4 separate regions of the Homo sapiens genome follow, and all the other regions are linked to region 1. The links come from fine-mapping of genetic effects on gene expression. A gene starts in region 1. Each other region holds a variant in brackets. All regions are shown on one strand. Distances are from middle to middle. Region 1 holds the start of NSG1 (neuronal vesicle trafficking associated 1). Region 2 has its middle 24 kb from the start of NSG1. Region 3 overlaps STX18 (syntaxin 18). Region 4 overlaps LOC105374359 (a long non-coding RNA gene).

Region 1 (5,269 bases):
AAATACCTGACATCTGTTTGACCTGCAACCACCATTGCAGCCTCAGCCATCCCCATTTTGGTGGCTGTGGCTTCTTCAACCTAATTTCTGCCACCCTCTGTGAATGACTTGGGTTCTCCAAATCACCACACCCTTGCAAGCTTAATGCCTGTAGTGAGCTGAATGGCGACCCTTAAAAGATATGTCCACATGCTAACCCCGGGAACCTGATTTACCTTACATAGTAAAAGAGTGAACATTATCTTATATGGCAAAGATAGGATTAAGTTAAGGATTTTGAGAGGGAGACCTTATCCTGGATTATCCCAGCAGGCCCTAAATCCTATGATGAGTGTCCTTATAAGAGACACAGAGAAGAGGAGGAGGCAATATGACTGGAGTGACATGAAGGCAGAGATTGGAGTGATGCAGCCACAGTCAAAGAATGTCTGGAGCCACTGGAAGCTGGAGGGGGAAAGAACAGGTTCTTCTCTGTGGCTTGTAGAGGGAGTGAGGCCCTGCTGGGACCTAGACTTTAGACTTCTGGCCTCCAAAGCCAGGAGAGAACATGTTTCTATTGTTTTAAGCCAAATTTGTTCCAACAGTGGCAGGAAGCTCATATACTGTCTTAACACATTCTGTTCTCCTACCTGGAATGCCTTCCCCTCTGCACGCACCTCTCTCAGGCCCACCTGTAGGAAGCTTTATCCACAGTCTTTACCCACAGTCTCTGGATGTCCTCCCTCCTGGCAAGAGGCAGAGGCCACTCTCCCACAGGGCCACTGCTCCCAGCAAAGACTTGCCCTTGTCCGTAGCTCCCTGCGGGTGGCGCTGTGTCTCATGCATTTTGCATTGTCCATGCCCTTCACAGGGCCCAGATACAATCAGCAGAGGAAGAAAACCACAGGATGAAACAGTCCCAATGACCAGCACCAGTGAAGACCCAAGACAGCACAAAAGGCCAGCTAGCAGAGAAACATGATTGTTCACCGTCCATCTCTGGGACAACCTAGGTCCTTCTTGCCTTTCTGTCCTCCTCAGTTGACAGAGTCTCTAAGGGAGGGGCAGGGCCTCCACTTTGTTCCTCCTGGTGTGGAATTCTGACCAAGTGTGTGTGTGTGTGTGTGTGTGTGTGTGTGTGTGTTTGCGCGCGCGCGTGTGTGTTGGGTTCTGTTAAATGCTTGAGCCTGAGACGGGGGGCGGGGCGGGGGGGGGTGCGGGAAAGCCATTTCCTTGCTTAAGCCCAAAGGGTTTCTCCTGACCAGTGGGTCACTCTCATGGCAGATGCCTGGGCAGATTTCTGAAGTGGAGCAAGAGAAATCTTCTCTTCTTCACCTGCTTCAGGGAGGCATCAAAGTGCCAAAAAGGTGGGTTCTGTGGGTCCCCGAGGCCCGTGGCAGGGGCCAGAGTCTGACACCCGCTTTCCCTGGGTTGGGGGCGGGGTGCCTCTGCCAGGAGCCTGGGTTCAGACCAGGCTGGCCTGTGGTCAAAGGCACACTTAGACCCTGGCTGGAGAGTTGGGGCGAGTTACGAGATACCCACTAGGTCACCTGTCAAAGACGGCTAGCCCTCCTGGGGATTTTGAAATCAGGGCACCCGCGGCAAGTTCCCAGGCTGTGCCTGGGGCTCAAGGCGGTGGCTGCTCCTGTGCTCTGGGCTTATTCCCAGGATTCTCAGACGGCTGATGGAAAACGCCCCGGACCCTCCGTAGTGCCGCGGGGAAGTCCCCGGAAAGGGTGTGAAAAAGTATCGAATTTGGGTGATGCCTCCTCCTCGTCCAGCGCCTGACAGGGCCCAGCTCCTGGCCCAGGTGCCCAGGAGGCACCGATCCCCGCAGCCGGCCTCCTCCCGCGCGGGCTCCACTCCCATTTCGGCCTCGCCCCCACACCCCATAGTCTTTCATCCGTGAGTCCTGCAGGCAGGACGGGTTGGAGGTCTGCAAACAGGACCCTCTCTGGGAAGCCGCGACAGCGGCTGAGCTCGGGGTTTGGGGGCGCAGGTCGGGCTAGAACCACCCCCCTTCTCTCCGCGTCCGGGCATCGTCCCAGCGGCCCCTCCTCTGTGCCCAGGATGCTCGGGCGGCGGCTGCAGTGGGACCTCCACCTTCTCTGCCAACCAGAGCGGAGGAACCTTTCCGCCTCCCTCCAAGCGGCGCACTGAGCGCTCTTTGCCTAGAACGACTTCCCTCCCGCTGCCTGGGGCAGCCTCACCCTGGGCGCCCACACCCCAGCCCTGGGAGAGCGCTACTCCGCCTCCCGCACCACCGAAAACCTCCTCCTCCTTTACGGGCCGCGCCTCCTTTACGGGCCGCGCCCCCTTTATACGCGGACGCGCCCTCTTTTGGTCGCCCCCTCCCCAACCCAGCACTAAGGAGCACCCTGCTCTGGTCTCCGCCACCACCCAGCGCCTCCTGGACCCATCCCCCCAAACCCTTGAACGTCCTCAGGACCCCCAGGTGAGCGCGGCGCGCTGCGGGCGGGGACCCTCTCTGCACCTCCCCGCACCCCTGGGGGTCGCTCTGTCCCTACGGTCCCCGCCTCCCCTTTCTCCTTTCTAAGCGCCTCGCGCCCAGGCCGCCGCCCGGGGTGGCGCAGCCCGCAGCCCTCCCGCTCCGGGCGCCCTCCGCCGCTCCGAGACCCCCTGGGGGCGCGTCCTCTCCCGCTCCCCTGTTCCCTCCCCCGGCTCAGGGCGGGCGCGTGGTCCCAGGGGAGGCTCCCGCCCAGCCCCGCACTCCTTTGTGCGGCCGGGCGGGCGCTGCGTCAAGGTGGAGGCGCGGCCACACGCGCGCACCCACCCGCGCGCACCCAGCCCCCGGGAGAGGCAGGAAGGGAGGCGGCGGCGCGAGGAGGAGGGAGCGGCCGTGGAGCCCAATCGTTCGCTCCCCTTCCCGGGTCCGCGCGCGGCGCCGCCTCCGCCATTGCTGCGAGCAGGAGCAGGAGACGCGGAGCTCGGAGCGCTCAGCTGACCTGCCGGAGCCGGGCGTGGGTGAGTGCGGCCGGCCGCGCCTGGGCTTGCCGAGGCCAGACCTTGCCCGCCCAGGAGCAGTGCCCGGGGGATGCCCATCTCCCGGAGTACGCGGGACGGGGCTGTGAACAGCGGGTCGCCCGGGTGCGGCGGCCCCAGGACCGGGGACCGGGTCTGGAGGTGCTGGGCAGGGGCGGCGCCCCCTTCCCTGGCCGCGGTGCGCCCTTGCGCCCGGCGCTTGGGTCCTGCGAGATGAGGGTCTAGAAATACACAGCACCACCCGACCCCCGCATCGGGCCGTGACCACCGCGTCCCCACGAGCCCTCCCCGAGACGAAGCGGGGCCGGGGAGCTCGCGGACGCCGGGACGCCGGTGGGTGTGGGTGCCCACTTCCCCCCCGCCCCGCCCCGGGTCTTGCTTGTGGTGACTCCCCCCGGCCCTCCCGCCGCAGGCTGCAGCCTCGGAGCTCCCGGAACGATGGTGAAGTTGGGGAACAATTTCGCAGAGAAGGGCACCAAGCAGCCGCTGCTGGAGGATGGCTTCGACACCATTCCCCTGATGACGCCCCTCGATGTCAATCAGCTGCAGTTCCCGCCCCCGGATAAGGTAAGCCCCCCCACGCCCCTCCACGTTGCCGGGTGTGCACCCCCAAATCTCGCACGGCGGGCGCAACAAAAGAAACGCGCCGCGTGCGCTGGGTACGCGAAGTGGGGGCGGGCTCGGGAGGCCGGAGGGAGCGCGGCGAGGACAGTGTACCCGCGCGGGATTCTGGATCGCGGGATGCTGGGCGGGGGAGGGGAGCCCTGCCTTAGATGATATTCTCGTCCTGACAGTGGAACGCGGTGGGGCAAGATTCCTTCGCGTTTTTCCTGGGAGCCTCATCCGAGAGGGCCCTGGCCCCGCAGCTGCCCTGCTCCTCCCTTGCCCCGTGGCCCCAGGGGCTCTGGATCGGGGGTGAGCCTAGGGGCGGGCGAGGCTGCCCCTGTACCTTCCCGGGTGTGGCAGTTCAGCCCGACTTGCCCCACCGAGGCGGGGGAGCGTTCTCCTTGGTCAGATGGCCCCTCCCCAGGGCTGAATTGTTCTCGCCCTTTCTGCCTGCCCCTGCCAGGCTGGCGCTAGGTGCAGGAGGGTGTGCGCGCTCACACAGGGTCTCCTTCCTCTTTGTTCCTTTTGTGAAATCTCCAAATAAGTGCCCGGGCTCGCTCAGTATTGGTGTCACTGGGAAAAACCATTCATCAACCTTTCCCCAAAGTGTTTTCTGCTGAATTTAAAGAATCTCCTCTTTTTGAATGTAGCATCCAATTAAGTAGTTTCTGTTTGCTAAGAATAATATTTCCAAGAGTTAACACTTAAAAATGTAAATAGATCTTTGCATGTCTAGGCAATTGTACTGTAAAATTCACATCTAAGACCATAGACACAGCATCTACTCTCAGCATCTTGCTGCCGCTTACGAACCACCACAGCCACGAATAATTCCCGGAAGTGCTTTTCTATTTATTTTCTCATTTAGTCCCTGGTGAAGGGGCTCTGAGCCAGGGCTCTGTCTTCGTTCCAGCAAGTTGGTGATTGCTGACGGGGTGGGTGTTGTGGGGTGGGGGTGTCCTGGTGGGGGCCCTGACCCCTGTGAAGGTGTCCTCCCAGCTTTATTGTGTGTGTCGTCTGGGGAGGGAGGCAGGAGCCGGGAAGAGGCTGGCAGCGGGGGTTTCAGTTCAAGAAAGGGGGATCAGCCGGCCACACCTGTGCCCCCCAGGCCACGGTGGTGCCACTCTGGGCCACTGATGGTCCAGGCTAGGCTTTGCAGGAGGGGCAGGGCTGCCTGAGGCCTCAGCTTCCACTCCACCCCTCCCTGTCTAGGCATCAGACTCGTCCAGTTAGCGGGGCCTGGCCCCGAGGCCCCCACACCCCCTCCTGCCTGGGCCCCCAGCTGCTCGGCTGAGGAGCAGTGGCGCCTGTGCCAGGAACTCCGTGTCCTGAGGCAGCACCTCTATCAGGTGATTCCCCTCACTTGGCCTGAGCCTCCTCTCTTGTCCTCAGTCTGTTCCATTCCAGAACCATTTGGCACAGTTGGTTTATACAGGGAGGAGGGTTTCAGGCAGGTATGAAATCCTCACCAACTAATTAGGTCGACCAGGAGTAGCCTAGGCAGCTCGGAAAGGTGATGAGTCTGCTCTCTCTGCAAGCGTCCGAAGCGGGGCAGCCAGCAGGGATGCTCTTCTCGGGTCCAGCCAGACCTTCCATCCCGGACTTCCCGCCGGGACTGAGTGTGGGTACAAGGGTTATGGCTCTTGGGATCATTTTCCAGAAGGCTTCTAAGGTCACAATG
Region 2 (5,269 bases), 24 kb before region 1:
TTTGTTTAAGAAACACTTAAGATGCTTTTCACACCTTGAATTCCAGCAAACAGTTTGAAGCCCCCTCCAGAGGAATGGGGAAGAATTGGGGGGTGGGCAGGAGAATGCAGCCGGTTCCTCTCCCTGGTCCAGCTTCCACGGCTTTACCCCCCACTCTTCGAGCAATCAACCATCTCCACACGTCGGTGCACTCCAAAACCCTGAAAAACCCCAGCCCCAAACTCCCTGGGGAGATGAATTTGTCCTTCCATCTCCTCGTTTGGTGGCCCTACAATGGAACCTCTTCCTCTGCTGCCACCCCATGTCCTGGCATGCTGGTTTGCCACGCACACCGGGCAACGAGCCTATTGCAGTTACACTCTCTCTGAACCACTGCCTTCTTCCTTAAAGTGGGAATAATAATACTTTTGCGAAAGAGCACTGAGGGGGATCCAGTGAGGTCAGGAGGAAACAACGTCTTGGTTTCTGTCCTCGAAATGGTTTCCCCACTCAGCTCTCTCACTCTAGACAGCTGCTATGTGAAAGGAAAAGAAATCTTGGGGCCCCAAAATCACTAAGCTAAAGGGAAAGGTCAGGCTGGGAACTGCTTAGGGCAAACGTGCCTCCCATCCTATTCCAAGTCACCCCTCTGCTCACTGAGATAAATGCATATCTGACTGCCTCCTTTGGAGGGGCTAATTAGACACTCACAACAATGCAACCAGGCCAGGTGCAGTGGCTCATGCCTGTAATCCCAGCGCTTTAGGAGCCTGAGGCGGGCGGATCACCTGAGGTCAGGAGTTCAAGACCAGCCTGACCAATATGGAGAAACCCTGTCTCTACTATAACTACAGTATTAGATGGGCATAGTGGTGCATGCCTGTAATCCCAGCTACTCGGGAGGCTGAGGCAGGAGAATCAGTTGAACCTGGGAGGCTGAGGTTGTGGTGAGCCGAGATTGCGCCATTGCACTCCAGCCTGGGCAATAAGAGCAAAACTCCATCTCAAAGAAAAAACAAACAAAAAAAGAATGCAACTGTTTGTCTCTTATCTACCTAGGACCTGGAAACCCCCTCCCCACTTTGAGTTGTCCCGTTTTTGCTTCCAGTTGTCCCACCTTTCCGGACCAAACCAATGTTAATCTTACATATGTTCATTGATGGCTCATATCTCCCTAAAATGTATAAAACCAAACTGTGCTCTGACCACCCTGGGTACATGTCGTCAGGACCTCCTGAGGCTGCGTCACAGGCGTGTGTCCTCAACCTTGGCAAAATAAACTTTCTAAATTAACTGAGACCTGCCTCAGATTTTCAGGGTTCACAGCTAATTCTGTGTGGGCTGTGCACAGTGGCTCACGGGTAAGCTGCCCACGGCAAGATTCGGCCAGTGTCAGCTTTTTGTCCTGCACAGAACTCAGCACATGGAACTGCCCCATTTGACATCAGCCACCAGGATATTCATACCCTTGTCAACACAGGCCCTTCCTACACATGGTTTTCAGAATTTATTTGACAAGAAGCAGTGAGTGCTTATTTTTAGACTTGTTTTGTGCTGAGAAATTAAAGACGTAAGAAAACCCTCCTGAGTGTGTGTTGAACATGTGGGGAAACACTCAGGAGGGTAAGAAAGAGGCTTCCAGATGATTTAGGATCTGGAGCTTGGACGTGACCAAAGCCAAGCCCATATGTGGGGGCTGGGCAGGTGTTACACAGACACAGTGTCAGGTGGGGAAGTGGTACAAAAGCAAGCCCTAACCGCACACCAGCCTTGTGGCTGTAGACACCCTGGGCTCAGCTGATGACACCACTTATGAGCTGTAGTGGGTTGAATGGTGGCCCCTAAACAGATGTGTCCGTGCTCGAGTCCCCAGAACCTGCGAGTGCCACTGTGTTAGTCTGTTCTCACGCTGCTGTGAAGGACCGCCTGAGACTGGGTAATTTATAAAGGAAAGAGGTTTAATGGACTCACAGTTCCACATGGCGGGGGAGGCCTCAGGAAACTTACAATCATGGTAGAAGGGGAAACAAACACATCCTTCTTCACATGGTGGCAGGAAGAAGAGTAAGAGCCTAGCAAAGGGGGAAGCCCTTTAAAAAACCATCAGATCTTAGGCCAGGTGCTGTGGCTCGTACCTGTAATCCCAGCACTTTGGGAGGCCGAGGCGGGCAGATCACCTGAGGTCAGGAGTTTGAGACCGGCCTGGTCAATATGGCGAAACCCCGTCTCTACTAAAACTATAAAAATTAGCCAGGTGTGTTGGCCCATGCCTGTAATCCCAGCTACTTGGGAGGCTGAGGCAGGAGAATTGCTTGAACCTGGGAGGCGGAGGTTGCAGTGAGCCGAGATTGCGCTACTGCACTCCAGCCTGGGTAACAGCGTGAGACTCTGTCTCAAACAAACAAACAAACAAACAAACAGAAAACAACCATCAGATCTCATGAGAACTCACTTGCTATCACGAGAACAGCATGGGGGAAACTGCCCCCATGATTCAATGATCCCCACCTGGTCCCACCCTTGATACATGGGGATTATTACAATTCAAGATGAGATTTGGGTGGGGACACAGAGCTTAACCATATTAGCTACCTTATTTGGCAATAGGGTTTTGCAGATACAATTCAGTGAAGGATCTCCAGAGATCAGCCTGGATCATACAGGTGGATCCCAAATACAGTGACAGGGTCCCTGCAAGAGAAAGGCGGAGGGAGATTTGAGACCAAAGAGAAGGCCTGGAAGAGGCCAGCATGGATTCTCTCCTAGAGCAGTC[G/A]GAGGCAGCAGCCCTGTTGCCACTGTGATTTCAGACTTCTGGCCTTCAGAACTGTGGGAAAATACATCTGTGTTGTTTTAACCCATGCAAGCTGTGGTATGTGTCATGGCAGCCACAGAAAATGAATGTGAGCTTTGTGACTGAATTTCCAAATCATCTCAGTCTCAGTTTCCTCACTGGTAAAGCGTCCCTAACTTACACAATTATTCTGAGGATTAACTGAAGGATTTAGGTCGAACCGTATTAAATCGCCACTTTTTGTAGGTCAAAAATGACTGGATGTTGGCAGTTGCATCAGAGCCAACCCAGTGATCGGTGAGAAGTGCCCAGCATGGCAGGGAGCACGTGGTGAATGCACGGGGAGCGCCGTGTATGCACAGCGGGTGCTGTCGGGGCTGATTTCTCCAGGGGAGAGTAGCATCCACACTGGCCCCAAGGGATGGGCAGGAGCTCATGCGGAAGGAAAGGGCTGCTGGGCGCTGGGGGGCACCCACGAGACAGCAGTGTGGGCAGAGCACAGACTGGGGCAGGGAGGGGAAAGGCAGCTCTGGAGGGGCTGGGAGGGGACAGAGGGTGCAGGAGGGTTGATATATGCACCTACTGAATACACAGCCCTCTGTGCCTGCTCAGCCGCCAGAGGGGGTCTCTGCACCCTGCTACAATGGTGATTTTGCTGAGACAAGCCTGAATGCATTACACCCGGCGTCACCTGTGTTTCTAGCCTCTGTGAACTTGACACTTCGTTGACATCCATCCTCCATGCATGGGCCAGAAAGGCCTTGTTCTGAACAACCTGATAATGTGCTTAAGTCACCGTGCCTGACCTCCTGCCTCCCTCGTCACCTCCCCCACTCCTCAGAGGAGTCCTCTTCTGGGTAGAGGCACTTTTCAAATACAAACCAACCAACCCAGAGTCCACGCTGCAGCCACCTGTTTTTCTAGGCTCTACTGCTCCAGCCACATCTACCTGTCCTCATCAGCTCAGGGCAGGTACCAGATTAGTAGGGACAGCCTTGTGCCCTGGAGCAGCTTTAATTATTCAAACTGGCCAATCCTAAGCCTGCCTACCTTTCTTGCTGGTTCTGTCCCACAGCAACCACAGTCAAAGTGCCCACTCACTGCTCTCCCCTTTGCCTCCTCCTCGTGACTGTGCCCATCTTCCTGTGTGGCCCCAGGCATGGCCTGCCGCCTCCTCTTGGAAACTGTGAGTGACAAACAATCTTTTTATTGGCAGGCGTCTTGTGATCTGTGGGCCTTCAGGGACTTCAGATGTCCTATGAATACACTGTATTTTTAAACATCCCTGCTCAAAACTCTTCACTAGGTTATGTATGCTTGGGAGAAAGTTAAAAATTCCCTAGTTTATTAGTCAATTTTCATGCTGCTGATAAAGACATACCCAAGACAGGGCAATTTACAGAAGGAAGAGGTTTATTGGACTTACAGTTCCACATGGCTGTGGAGGCCTCACAATCATGGCAGAAGGCAAGGAGGAGCAAGTCACATCTTACGTGGATGGCAGCGGGCAAAGAGAGAGAGAGCTTGTGCAGGGGAATGTCTCTTTATAGAACTATGAGATCTTGTGAGACTCATGATCATGAGAACAGCATGGGAAAATCCCGCCCCCACGATTCAATTACCTCTCACCAGGTCCCTCCTGGAACACATGGGAATTCAAGATGAGATTTGGGTGGGGACACAGCCAAACTATATCACTTAACCTTGTGTATCAGTGTCCTGTGGCTGCTGTAACAAATTCATTAGCACACATTCAGTGGCTTAAAATGAGAGCAACTTTTGCAGTTCTGGAGGGCAGAGACCTGAAATGAGTTTCATGGGGCTTAAGGCAAGGTGTTGGCAGGGCTGCACTCCTGAGGCCCTGGGAGAATCCATTTCCAGCTCCGGGAACTGCTTTCTTCACATTCCTCGCATTCCTCAGGTGGCAACTCCTTCCTCCATCTTCAAAGGCAGCAGCGTCACATCTTGCTCCAGTTTTTCTTCTGCATCAAACCTCCCTCTTATAGGGACACCTGTGATTACATTCAGGGGTCATCCGATAACCTAGAATAAGCTTTACACCCAAAAACGTTTAGCTTGGTCTCAGCTGCAAAGTCCCTTTTGGCATATAAGGTAACAGCCATAGGTTATGCAGATTTGGACGGGGATAACCTTGGGGGCCATGTTGCAGCCAAACACAGCCGCCATTAAAAGCTTCTGCTTCCCTTGGCAACATCAGCTCCTCACCTTCCCACGTGCCCCATCTAGCCCTGCTTAGATGTGCCAAGGGGCTGCTCCTTCTGGAATGTTCTCCCTGCCCTTCCTCAGGGCCCTTCTGTCTGGAGACCTCATGAATAACCTCCTGGTGGCAATTCTCAGGCACCCCCAGAGCATCGTGTCTGCACACCTCACCTCTCATGCAGAATCTGAATCCTGGGCCAGTTCAGGACTCACACCAGAAAGGGCACATTGATGAAGAAGCACATGTCTTACCTGGGGTGACCCTGAAGGTACAAGGTT
Region 3 (5,269 bases), 35 kb after region 1:
CCCTGAAGCTACCGGGATGGGAAAGGTCAGTGTCTTCCTTTGAACCCTGAGACAATTAGGGGCTCTTGAGGCCTGCTGTGCCCCTGCTGCCAAGGCAGCCTCAAGTTCAAGGAGCAGCTAATCACCCACTCCTGCATTCAGTCTGTCTTGCCTGATGAGGGCTACGCAGGCTGCCTCCCATTGGTGTGCACTGTTTCCTTTTTCAGCTGCTAAATGGCTGAACACCATCGGCCTGGGGTATCCCTTTTTGGGGAATACGTCTGTCTGTCTGAACTCCTTTCCCTTCAAATGGCACTGTGATAAAATCTGGTCATACCATGCTCCAGCACTGGAAGTACATGAAAGCACGCAGTCTGTGAGTGCCCATGAGGACTCTCGTGCTGGGCCCCCGTGGCCCTGGCTAGCTGTCGTACCAGTCGAGGAAGAGCAAGGAGAAGGAGCACATCACGAGGAAGAAGAGGATCCACACGCGGAAGCCAGCGTTGTTTTTAATGGCCTGGGCAGGGACGGGAGCACAGGTGTTTTTATCACACAGGATTTTGGTTTGAGCAGCCCTGAAATGCCCCCCTCTTCCCACGTGCTCTCCTGATCCTGGCTGTAACTATGGGTGTCGTTCCATCTGTGCTTACCTTGAATAGATGGCTTTTGAGATCCACCAGAAGACAAATGGGTTATATTTCCCTCTGTTTGGCCATCATTTGGGTCCTGCACAATTCTCCCTCAACACAACTCTCGGAATCACTCCCTTCTGTCCCAGGGTTAAGGGCCCCGAGCAGAGTGTGACCGCAAGCTTTGTGTTTCCCAGTAACATGATGTCCGTGGTGACCCAACCCTGAGGACTGAGCTTGGGAAACAGTCCCCTCAACAGGATGGCTGTAGTGTCCTCTGTAAGCAGGGGCCAGGCTCTGACCCCTCGGTGGGGGCCAACGAGCTACCCATGTACATCCCTGGACATGAAGAGCTGGCCTGACCCTGCCAGGAGTACCCCCACCCACCCTGGATTGCTCCTTTGGAGGCTGGTGAGCCACTGCCTCTCGAAAGCAGCTGGAGGTGGGCGACAGGTGGTGGGTCTCATGAACACACGCAGCTCCGCGGTCACACAATTTTGTGATCAGCCCCGTGAGCTCTGCCCAGCAAGGCTCCTGGGCAGCTGTGCCGGCGAGACTAACACCCGCTGCTGGGACTCAGTGCTGCGCCACGTCGCACCTGGGGAACCTAAACAGTGCCTACCTCTCTTATGTCTTCGTTGCCTTCCTTGATATTTTCAGTTGCCCCCACAACTAACTGGTGAATGCTGTCAATCTCAGCTTCCTGTGGAAGAAAAGATAAATACAAGTTGAGTATCCTTTATCCAAAAACCTGAAACCCAAAATGCTCCAACGAGCATTTCCTTTGAGTGTCATGTCAGCGCTCAGAAAGTTTCAGATTTTGGAGCACTTAGGACTTCACATTTTGAAGTTTAGGGATGCTTGACATATACAGCCACTTCCTCCTCCCTGAAGCGTATATCATGACAAGAACAGTAGCCGTCACCAAGGGCTAACGGCTTTACTTGCATAGCCACAAATCCTCACAGCACCCCAAGAAGTAGGTATTACCTCTATTTTATGAAACGGAAACTCACGGCTCAGAGAAGTTTACTAACTTGCCCAAAGTCACATCACACAGCAACCAAGTGGCAGGACTGAGACTTTTTTTTTTTTTGAGACAGGGCTTAAACGATCCTCCCACTTCAGCCTCCCAAGTAGCTGGGAGTATAGGCATGTGCCACCACGCCTGGCTAAATTTTTAAAATTTTTTGTAGAGATGGGGGGTCTCCCTATGTTGCCCAGGCTGGTCTTGAACTCTTGAGCTCACACCATGCTCCCGCCTCGGCCTCCCAGAGTGCTGGGATTACAGGCATGAGCCACCGCGCAGGGCTGAGACCCCATCTTGTTGCAGTGCTCCTTCCGCCACACTTACCATCCCTCCTGCGCCACTCGCCGGTGACGGACAAAAACCTAAGAGCTATTGTTTGTGGAGCAGCCACCATATGCCAGGGGCTTCCCTTCTAGTCTCTCATTTCTTTCTGAAGTCCACAGAAGTAAGCTTTAAAATGTATGTGCTTCGAAATACATATGCTAGCTTCAAAAATAGTGCTTTGTGTTTTACTATCATCATATCTCTTAAAAAACAGGCTAAAATTTAAAAATCAAAATAGGATGCAGGATGCTTACAGAAAACGTTTACTCCAAAC[G/A]AAGCCTTGAAAAGCTTGAGAAGCGTGGGATAACACAGGGGGCGTCTGGCCCCACAGGAGCAGAGACGGTGCTAGACGTCCTTACAAGCAGGAGTGCCTGCTTCTCTCCTCCTTTCGGTGGTGGTGAAGCTGCTTCCTAACAGGGTCAGGGCAGAATGAATGCTAGCGTGGGTTTTTAGAGAAACCTGACTGACACATTGTAGGGAGGAAGGCAGCATGTGGCCTCTGATTCCCAGCAATGAATATTACTGGGATGGCTTTGCCTCATCATCACCCCTTTTTAGAGAGTCTCAAAGTGTGAACTAAGTGACCACTGCCAAGGTTCCAATGAGAGAATCAATATGAACTACAATGCAACACTGATGGAAAAAACAAGAAAGACACATTGTTCCTCAGGACTTAGGAACTCCCAGTGGGCCGGGCGCAGTGGCTCTCGTCTGTAATCCCAGCACTTTGGGAGGCCAAGGCAGGTGGATCACCTGAAGTCAGGAGTTCGGGACCAGCCTGGCCAAGATGGTGAAACCCCGTCTTTACTAAAAATACCAAAATTAGCCAGGCGTGGTGGCATGCCTGTAATCCCAGCTACTCAAGAGGCTGACTGAGGCAGGAGAATCGCTTGAACCTGGGAGGATGAGGTTGCAGTGAGCCAAGATAGCAACATTGCACTCCAGCCTGGGCGACACAGCAAGACTCTGTCTCCAAAAAAAAAAAAAAGAAAAAGAAAAAAAAAGAAAAGAAAAAGAAACTCCCGGTGAGCCAAGGCAAGGCTCTGCCTATGCTCTGCACGCCCCTCCCAGGCCCCCTGGAGCCGCTGGGAGGTTTGAAGCAGGGTAGTGTTATTAAAAAGGGCGACTCCTATGAACCCGAACTTGCAAACCACTGTTAGACTTAATGTACCTCATTTACAATGATTTCACTCTGGCTGTGTGGTTTATGGAAAGTCATTTTGTGAGTGAAGTATCTTAAGTCAAGTAGTCCAGTTTAAAATACTGGAGAAAATTTTGTCTTTCAAACGTTCCCATAGTCTTTGGATGCTAAAAATAAAAGGGCAAATTTATCAGGTCTTGAAAAGTTTTGCCAGTTATTGGCTGGAAGAATTTCAGAAAATTCACTTGAAAAGAACAATCCTATTTCCCACGCAGACACCATCCCTGAGGTGGCATGGACCGCGCGTTGTGAGAGGCCTGGGTCTGAGCTCCTGTAACCTACTGACTGAAAAGCAACTGCCCGTCAGCATCGTGCTGGATGCTTCTGCAGTTATCTCTCAAACAGAGAATAACCCTGCAGGAGTCCCTCCCTCCTATAGATGGGAAACTGTAGCTTGTGGGGGCTACCTAGCTTACCCAGCACATCCAGAACCCTGACTGCCAGGCCTGGACTCTCCTCCCACGTGCCACCGCATGTGCTACCACATGGGGTGGTCAGTGGGTCCCCTGTGGGGAGCTCCTCCTCCATCACACGTGTGCAGAGGCAGCTCTGGGTAGTGAGAGCTTTTCCCTGAGGAGCTCTGCGCACACACACCTGCTAGCAACACATGGCTCTGCTCCTGGCTGTGTAGAGCAGCAGCCTTTGGGAAAAATGTCTCGTGCTCTCAAGTACATTCCCCTTTGAGTGAAAACATACAGCTCCTTTGTTTTTGTTTTTTTACCTGTTGCAAAACCTTTTCCGTGAATATCTCTTGGAGTCTGGAAATCTCAACCACTCTCCCTTCGATTTGCCTTCATAAAAAGAACAGATTACATATTAACTATTAGCACTTGGTAATCTAACAGGACTGTTACACACTTCTAAAGAAATCCTATCTTCTACGTGAAGGTGGGAGAGACAGGGGGCACACTGTGTCGGCTGGGGGAAGAGGAGATGGGAGAGGAAGGCGAACTCTCCTTACTGGGTCACCTTCCCTGTCTTCTGGCATAGCCTAGCACACTGGTCTTTTTGGAAGTCCACTCTACCATGCCAACTGACCCTCAGTCCCAAGAGGTGGGTGTGTGCAGTGCCCTTTGCATTCTGTGTCACTGCTCGGGGAATGGGGAGGGCCTGGTTGTGCCCCAGTTACAGAAAGCAGTCTCCAGTAAGTTCTCTGCCTAGCCTCATCACCATGGTAACACATGGTGGGGATTCAGAAGGTCAGAATATGCTGATGATCCAGCTTTGTTAATGCTCAGCAGGTTAAAGAAAAAAGTGTATTTACCTTCAAACCAACTCCCTGTTCCAAGAAAAAAGCTCCTCTGATTCATTTAGAAAATGCCATGTCTTGGTTTGGCAACGGAGTGTTCTGTCGGATCTGAAACACTTGGGCTAGCCATCTTCCTGGTGTCAGGGGCAGCATGGGCTACCCTGGGGGGCGGGTGGGGGCACATCTATTTAGAAACAGAAGCTGGCCCAAGCTGAAGTCAACTGCTGTTCCAGCACAAAGCAGCGACAGGAAGTGACAGGAGGCAAAAAGTGGTGGGAGCTGAGCTCCTGGCCAGGTGGAAGCAGTGATGAATCCCAACAGTATCACAGTGGCAGGGGGCAGGGGAGGAGATGTGGGAAGAAAAGCCAGTGAGTATCTGGGCATGGGGGAGTAGCGGGGTGGGGGCGGTAGTGGGGCAGACAGTGAAAGCTAGGCTGTCAGAGGAGGACTAGGAGGTCCATCTCTGAGGGCAGAAGGCGAAGAGCCCCTTGGAGGCTGACACCTACACTGAGAAAGTCCTCAGGCTGTGTGAGTGCAGCATCAGGATTGATTTTATTTGGGGGACATGTCCACAATACAACAGGCTCTGCAAAGTCCTGGGCCTTACTTTCAGCATGCTCCAAGCCTTCCCACAGAAACTAGAGGCTAACGGGTGCATGTGTGAGTGACCAAGGCCTTGCCTTCTGCATTCCTGACTCCCTGGTGGGTACAGGAGCAGGCAGACCCCAGTGGAACCATTTGCAGAAGAGGGCTTCCCTTGGTTAGCTGCCCTTCATAAGGGCCCCATTTCATTTCAGAGTCGCTGCGTGGAAACAGCCCGAATGGTGGTGGAAATTATACGCAGGTAATCTGTAGTC
Region 4 (5,269 bases), 390 kb before region 1:
TGCAGTCAGTGGCCTGCGGTGTGCCGGTGCCCATTGGTGCGTTCCTCTTGATGTCCAGCGCCCTTGTGTTCCTCCGCTGATGTGCTCCTCTCGAAGTCCAGCTGCCTGTGTGTCTGCCTGCTAGGGTCTCAGGGTTTTTATAGGCACAGAATGGGGGTGTGGCAGCCAGGGTGGTCTTGGGAAATGCAACATTTGGGCGGGAAAACAAAAATCCCTGTCCTCACCTAGGTCCATGGGCACAGGCCCTGTGGTGAAGCCCTAGCCAGGGACCACACCCTCCTCTACCCAGTACTTCCCTTCCTCACTTCCATATCATTTAAAGGGACCACATTCTTCCCTTCCGAGCACTTCCCTTCTGTATCACAAAGTGCTGGGATTATAGGCATGAGCCACTGGTCCCAGCCAATTCCGTTCTTTTAATGCAAAGTAGAAAATTGGTGTTCAGAAAGGCCTGCCCTATCCACCTCAGGGAGTTGCTATGAAGATCAAATTAGATCATGTGCAACAGAAGTTTAGAAAAGATTCCAAAAGCACTGTGCAACGAGAATGTATTTTTAAACTCCACTGAGTGGACTTAAAACTATGTTTTTTTTTTCTTTCTTTCTTTCTTTTTTTTGTTTGAGACAGAGTTTCACTCTTGTTTCCTAGGCTGGAGTGCAACGATGCCATCTTGGCTTACTGCAACCTCTGCCTCCCAGGTTCAAGTGGTTCTCTGCCTCAGCCACACGAGTAGCTGGGATTACAGGCGCTCACCACCATGTCTGGCTAATTTCTTTCTTTCTTTTGTTTTTGTCTTTTTAGTAGAGATGGGGTTTCATGTTGTTGGCCAGGCTGGTCTCAAACCCCTGACCTTAGGTGATCCACCCACCTTGGCCTCCGAGAGTGCTGGGATTAAGGCTTGAGCCACCGCACCCCACCTGTGTTTCTTTTTTAAGCAAGAAAACAAATGTCTCTCCCCAGCGCTCACTAAACAAATCCCTCTGTTTTTCTTTCCATAGGATTCTTATCCTTCTTGCCCCACTGCAAACAATCTATTTTCTTTTGGCCCTTCCGTCCATCTGTGAAAGGGTCAGGCTTTCTAGCTAACCCTTCATCAAATATTTTTGATGACCACAGTCAAGACAGTACTTATTATTTTTTTTTGAGACAGAGTTTCGCTCTTGTTGCCCAGGCTGGAGTGCAATGGCGCAATCTCGGCTCACTGCAACTTCTGCCTCCAGGGTTCAAGTGATTCTCTTGCCTCAGCCTCCCAAGTAGCTGGGATTACAGGTGCACAACACCACGCCCATCTAATTTTTGTATTTTTAGTAGAGATGGGGTTTCTCCATGTTGGTCAGGTTGGTCTCGAACTCCTGACCTCAGGTGATCTACCCACCTCTGCCTCCCAAAGTGCTGGGATTACAGGGGTGAGCCACCCTGACTGGCCAAGACAGTGCTTATTAATGCCTGAGATGCATTCAGGAGCACATGAGCTGGCTGTGACTGTTCTAACAAAGTTCCCCAAATGGGTGGCTCAGGACAACAGAAAGTCATTCTCTCCAGTTCCAGAAGCTTGGTGTCTGAAACGGGCAGGGCCGTGCTCCCTCTGAAGGCTCTAGGGATGAATCCTTCCTTGCCTCTTCTGGCTTCTGGTGGTTGCTGGCAATCCTTGGCTTGTGGCCACATCATTCCATTCTCTTCCTTCATTCTCACGTGGCCTTCTCCCCTGTGTGTCTCTGTCTCTTCTTATCTTTCCATGAGGATGCCATTATTACTGGATTTAAGGTCCACGCTATTCCAATATGACCTCTTTGTAATTAGATCTGCAGTGACCCTATTTTCTTTTCTTTTTTTTTGAGATGGAGCCTTGCTCTGTTGCCCAGGCTGGAGTTCAGTGACACAATCTCAGCTCGCTGCAACTCTGCCTCCTGGGTTCAAGTGATTCTTCAGCCTCAGCCTCCAAAGTAGCTGGGATTACAGGTGCATGCCACCATGCCTAGCTAATGTTTGTGTTTTTAGTAGAGACAGGGTTTTGCCATGCTAGCCAGGCTGGTCTTGAACTCCTGACCTCAAGTGATCCTCCTGCCTCAGCCTCCCAAAGTGTTAAGACTACAAGCATGAGCCACCATGTCTTG[C/T]CCCTATTTTCTAATAAGGCCACATTCTGGGATTCCTGGTGAATGTGAATTTTTGGAGGACAGTATTCAGTCTGGCAAAAGGCAGAACATCCTCATTTTCTTCCCTACCTCAGAAATAAGGAAGTTAACTTCGACCCCTCGGAGAGAGAGAGAGGCTTCCTGAGCTTCCAACTATCAATTATCCAAATATTAGTCACAGAAGAGCACTAAGGGTTGTGCACAGCACGTGGCCAGCCCGTTCTCAGAGTCTGTCAAGTTTAAGGTGAACGCTAATCCTGAATGAGTTTTAAAATGTATTTGGCATATCCTGGTCATTGTAAAATATTCTCACATTGTGATGGCTGGGGCTTCCCTCTCAGGTGTAATCTACGAAGTCAGAGGTGACACAGCCTGGGTGAGGTGGGCCAAGCTGGGAACTGGGTTAGGAGGGAGGCTGGGGAATGATCTCCAAGGTCTCAGATCCCAAACTGGCTTTAGCCTGATTCATCCAGAGGGATCTCATAAAAAACGCACATTCCGGGGCCCAACCCAGACCTAATGAATCAGAATTACCTGGGAAGAAGCCTGGGGAGCTCTGTTTTCAGAAGCAGCCCAGCCGAATCCTACGGTCAGACAGGGCTAGGAAACCGAGCTCAGTCTAGGGCGGTAGTTCCCAAACTCATCTGTGCTTCAAAAAATACAGATGCTGATGTCCAGGCATGGTGGCTCATGCCTATAATCCCAGCAGTTTGGGAGGCTGAGGCGGGAGTATCGCTTGAGCTCAGGAGTTTGAGACGAGCCTGGAGAACATAGGGAGATACTGTCTCTATAAAAAATTTAAAAATTAGCCAGGCGTGGTGGTGCCCGCCTGTGATCCCAGCTACCGTGGAGGTTGAAGTGGTAGTGTTGCTTGAGCCCAGGAGTTGGAGGCTGTAGTGAGCTATGATTGTGCCACTGCACTCCAGCCTGGGTAACAGAGCGAGGCCCTGTCTCAAAAACAAAACAAAACAAAAAACGGATGCTATGTCCCATTCCGGAGGTTAGGGTTCAATTGTTCTTCGGTGTGGCCTGGGTTTTGGAAGACTTAAAAAAAAATCCCAGGTGACCCTAAAGTGTAGATGAGTTTGGAAACCACACATTTAAGGCACACTTGAATGGGGGAGCAGTGAGGTGGCGCGGGCTAGCCGGCCAGAACCCAGGGGTGGGGCAGTAGGAACCAGCATTGCAGAGGCCATTGAGGCTGGGAAGCATAGTGTCTGGGGCCCATAACAATGCTTGGACATGAATGCTTTAGACCCAAGACAATTGGCTGCTAAATGTGCAAACTGCAAGGCTGAAATGAACGCATGTTTAATGCTTTACAACACTGTCAAGGGATCAGCTGCAACTCCGTTCTGAGGGCGTGATGCCTGAGATATGCCTGTAATGGGGGTGGATTTTAATGAATTTAATATGGTGTGGAGTCGGGCCTTCAAGAGTAAAGAGGTCAGTTCTAAGTTGGTTGCAGGGGTCTGGGCAAAGGTCTTAAAACCCCATGGTGAGCAGATGGCCAATCCTGAACACCCCAATTTTAAAACAGGGCTTTTTTTCCAAGAGACTTTTTGAAAATAGCTCCTATTTTGAGGGGAGGAACCCTGGCAGGAGAGAGCGAGAGTTAAGCCCAGCTGAGAGGGGGTTGGCAGGCAGGGGACTGCCTGGTCCTCACTGAAGCTTGATACTCAGGGTGAGCTTCCTAAACCAATGCAGATTTGCTGGCCCACTGAGCCTCCCAGATGAGAACCTGCATTTCAACAAGGTCCTCGGTGCAGCAAAGTTTGAGATATACTGGGCTAGAACACCCAGGGGACACAAAGGTTCTCTGAAAACTAAGGAAAATAGGCAGGGTGTGGTGGCTCATGCCTGTAATCCTTGTATTTTGGGATGCCAAGGCGGGCGGATCACCTGAGATCAGGAGTTCGAGACCAGCCTTGATCAACATGGTGAAACACCATCTCTACAAAAAATACAAAAATTAGCTGGGTGCGGCTGGGCACAGTGGCTCATGCCTGTAATCCTTGATTACAGTAATGCCTACTTTGGTAGGCTGAGGCGGGCAGATCATGAGGTCAGGAGATCGAGACCATCCTGGCTAACACGGTGAAACCCTGCCTCTACTAAAAATACAAAAAAATTAGCCGGGCGTGGTGGCAGGTGCCTTTAGTCCCAACTACTCGGGAGGCTGAGGGAGGAGAATGGCATGAACCTGGGAGGTGGAGCTTGCAGTGAGCCGAGATTGCACCACTGCACCGCAGCCTGGGCAACAGAGCCAGACTCGGTCTCAAAAAAAAAAAAAAAAATTATCTGGGTGAAGTGGCAGGTACCTGTAGTCCTAGCCACTTGGGGGGCTGAGACAGGAGAATAGATTGATCCTGGGAGACGGAAGTTGCAGTGGCCCGAGATCGCACCACTGCACTCCAGTCTGGTGGCAGAGTGAGACTCCATCTAAAAAAAATAATAAATAAATAAATAAAAAATAAAAATAAATACTGGGCTAGAAGACCCAGGAGACCCGAACATTCTCTCAAAACTAAGGAAAATAATCTAGGTCACAAATATATTCTCTTTCTCCTTCTCCCCATTGCCCCCCTTCACCAGGAATCTTTATAGACTCAAATCGAGTTGATGTTCTATAATCAATTCTAGTCACTTTTATTTATATTTATTTATTTTAGAGATGGGGGTCTCCCTATGTTGCTCAGGCTGGTCTCAAATTCCTGGGCTCAAGTGATCCACCCACATCGGTCTCCCAAAGTGCTGGGATTACAGGCATCAGCCACTGCACCTGGCCGTCACTTTTATTTTTGATGTTCAAATTATAAGCTAATGCCTGTGAGACCATAGATTCTTTTTATGCACTCAATACATTTTTGTGTTTACCTTACATTTGTATTATGGACAAATTCTGTTTTTTCCACTTGTTTCTATTTGATAATGAAGCCCTCTGTGCCTATCACCAGCCTCAGCCGCCATCATCTCATTACCAAGCTGGGTTATTTTGAAGCAAACATCTTCTAATATTTAGCCGGCGTTCAAATTTCCCTAACCATCCTAAATGAATGTTTAGAATAGTTGTTTTATTGGAAACAAGGTCAAAACAAGTACATTTTACATTTTTAGGCCAGTCTTGAAAGTAAGTG

What was found. PIP is the estimated chance that this variant, and not a neighbour inherited with it, causes the effect. A credible set is the group of variants that fine-mapping cannot tell apart.
Region 2: its variant is the best candidate, but not a certain one, in a credible set for the expression of NSG1 in whole blood (INTERVAL, PIP 0.72).
Region 3: its variant is the best candidate, but not a certain one, in a credible set for the expression of NSG1 in whole blood (TOPMed, PIP 0.85).
Region 4: its variant is the best candidate, but not a certain one, in a credible set for the expression of NSG1 in left ventricle (GTEx, PIP 0.77).

The regions. Positions count from the first base shown.
Region 1 is chr4:4,384,210-4,389,478 of GRCh38, forward strand. It overlaps NSG1 (neuronal vesicle trafficking associated 1), which reads left to right and starts at 2,893. Exons shown (of 5, transcript NM_014392.5): 1 at 2,893-2,964; 2 at 3,395-3,549. The coding sequence starts at 3,421. It overlaps LOC112268462 (a long non-coding RNA gene), which reads left to right. Exons shown (of 3, transcript XR_007058004.1): 3 at 313-400.
Region 2 is chr4:4,360,338-4,365,606 of GRCh38, forward strand. No RefSeq gene overlaps it. Among named protein-coding and RNA genes, the nearest start is that of NSG1, 24 kb to the right of the region's middle. The variant G/A (reference allele first, on the strand shown) is at 2,753.
Region 3 is chr4:4,419,634-4,424,902 of GRCh38, forward strand. STX18 (syntaxin 18) reads right to left here. Exons shown (of 11, transcript NM_016930.4): 9 at 3,885-3,954; 10 at 1,231-1,311; 11 at 1-496. The coding sequence ends at 401. Among named protein-coding and RNA genes, the nearest start is that of NSG1, 35 kb to the left of the region's middle. The variant G/A (reference allele first, on the strand shown) is at 2,237.
Region 4 is chr4:3,989,278-3,994,546 of GRCh38, forward strand. All of the region lies in intron 1 of LOC105374359 (a long non-coding RNA gene), which reads left to right. Among named protein-coding and RNA genes, the nearest start is that of ADRA2C, 230 kb to the left of the region's middle. The variant C/T (reference allele first, on the strand shown) is at 2,115.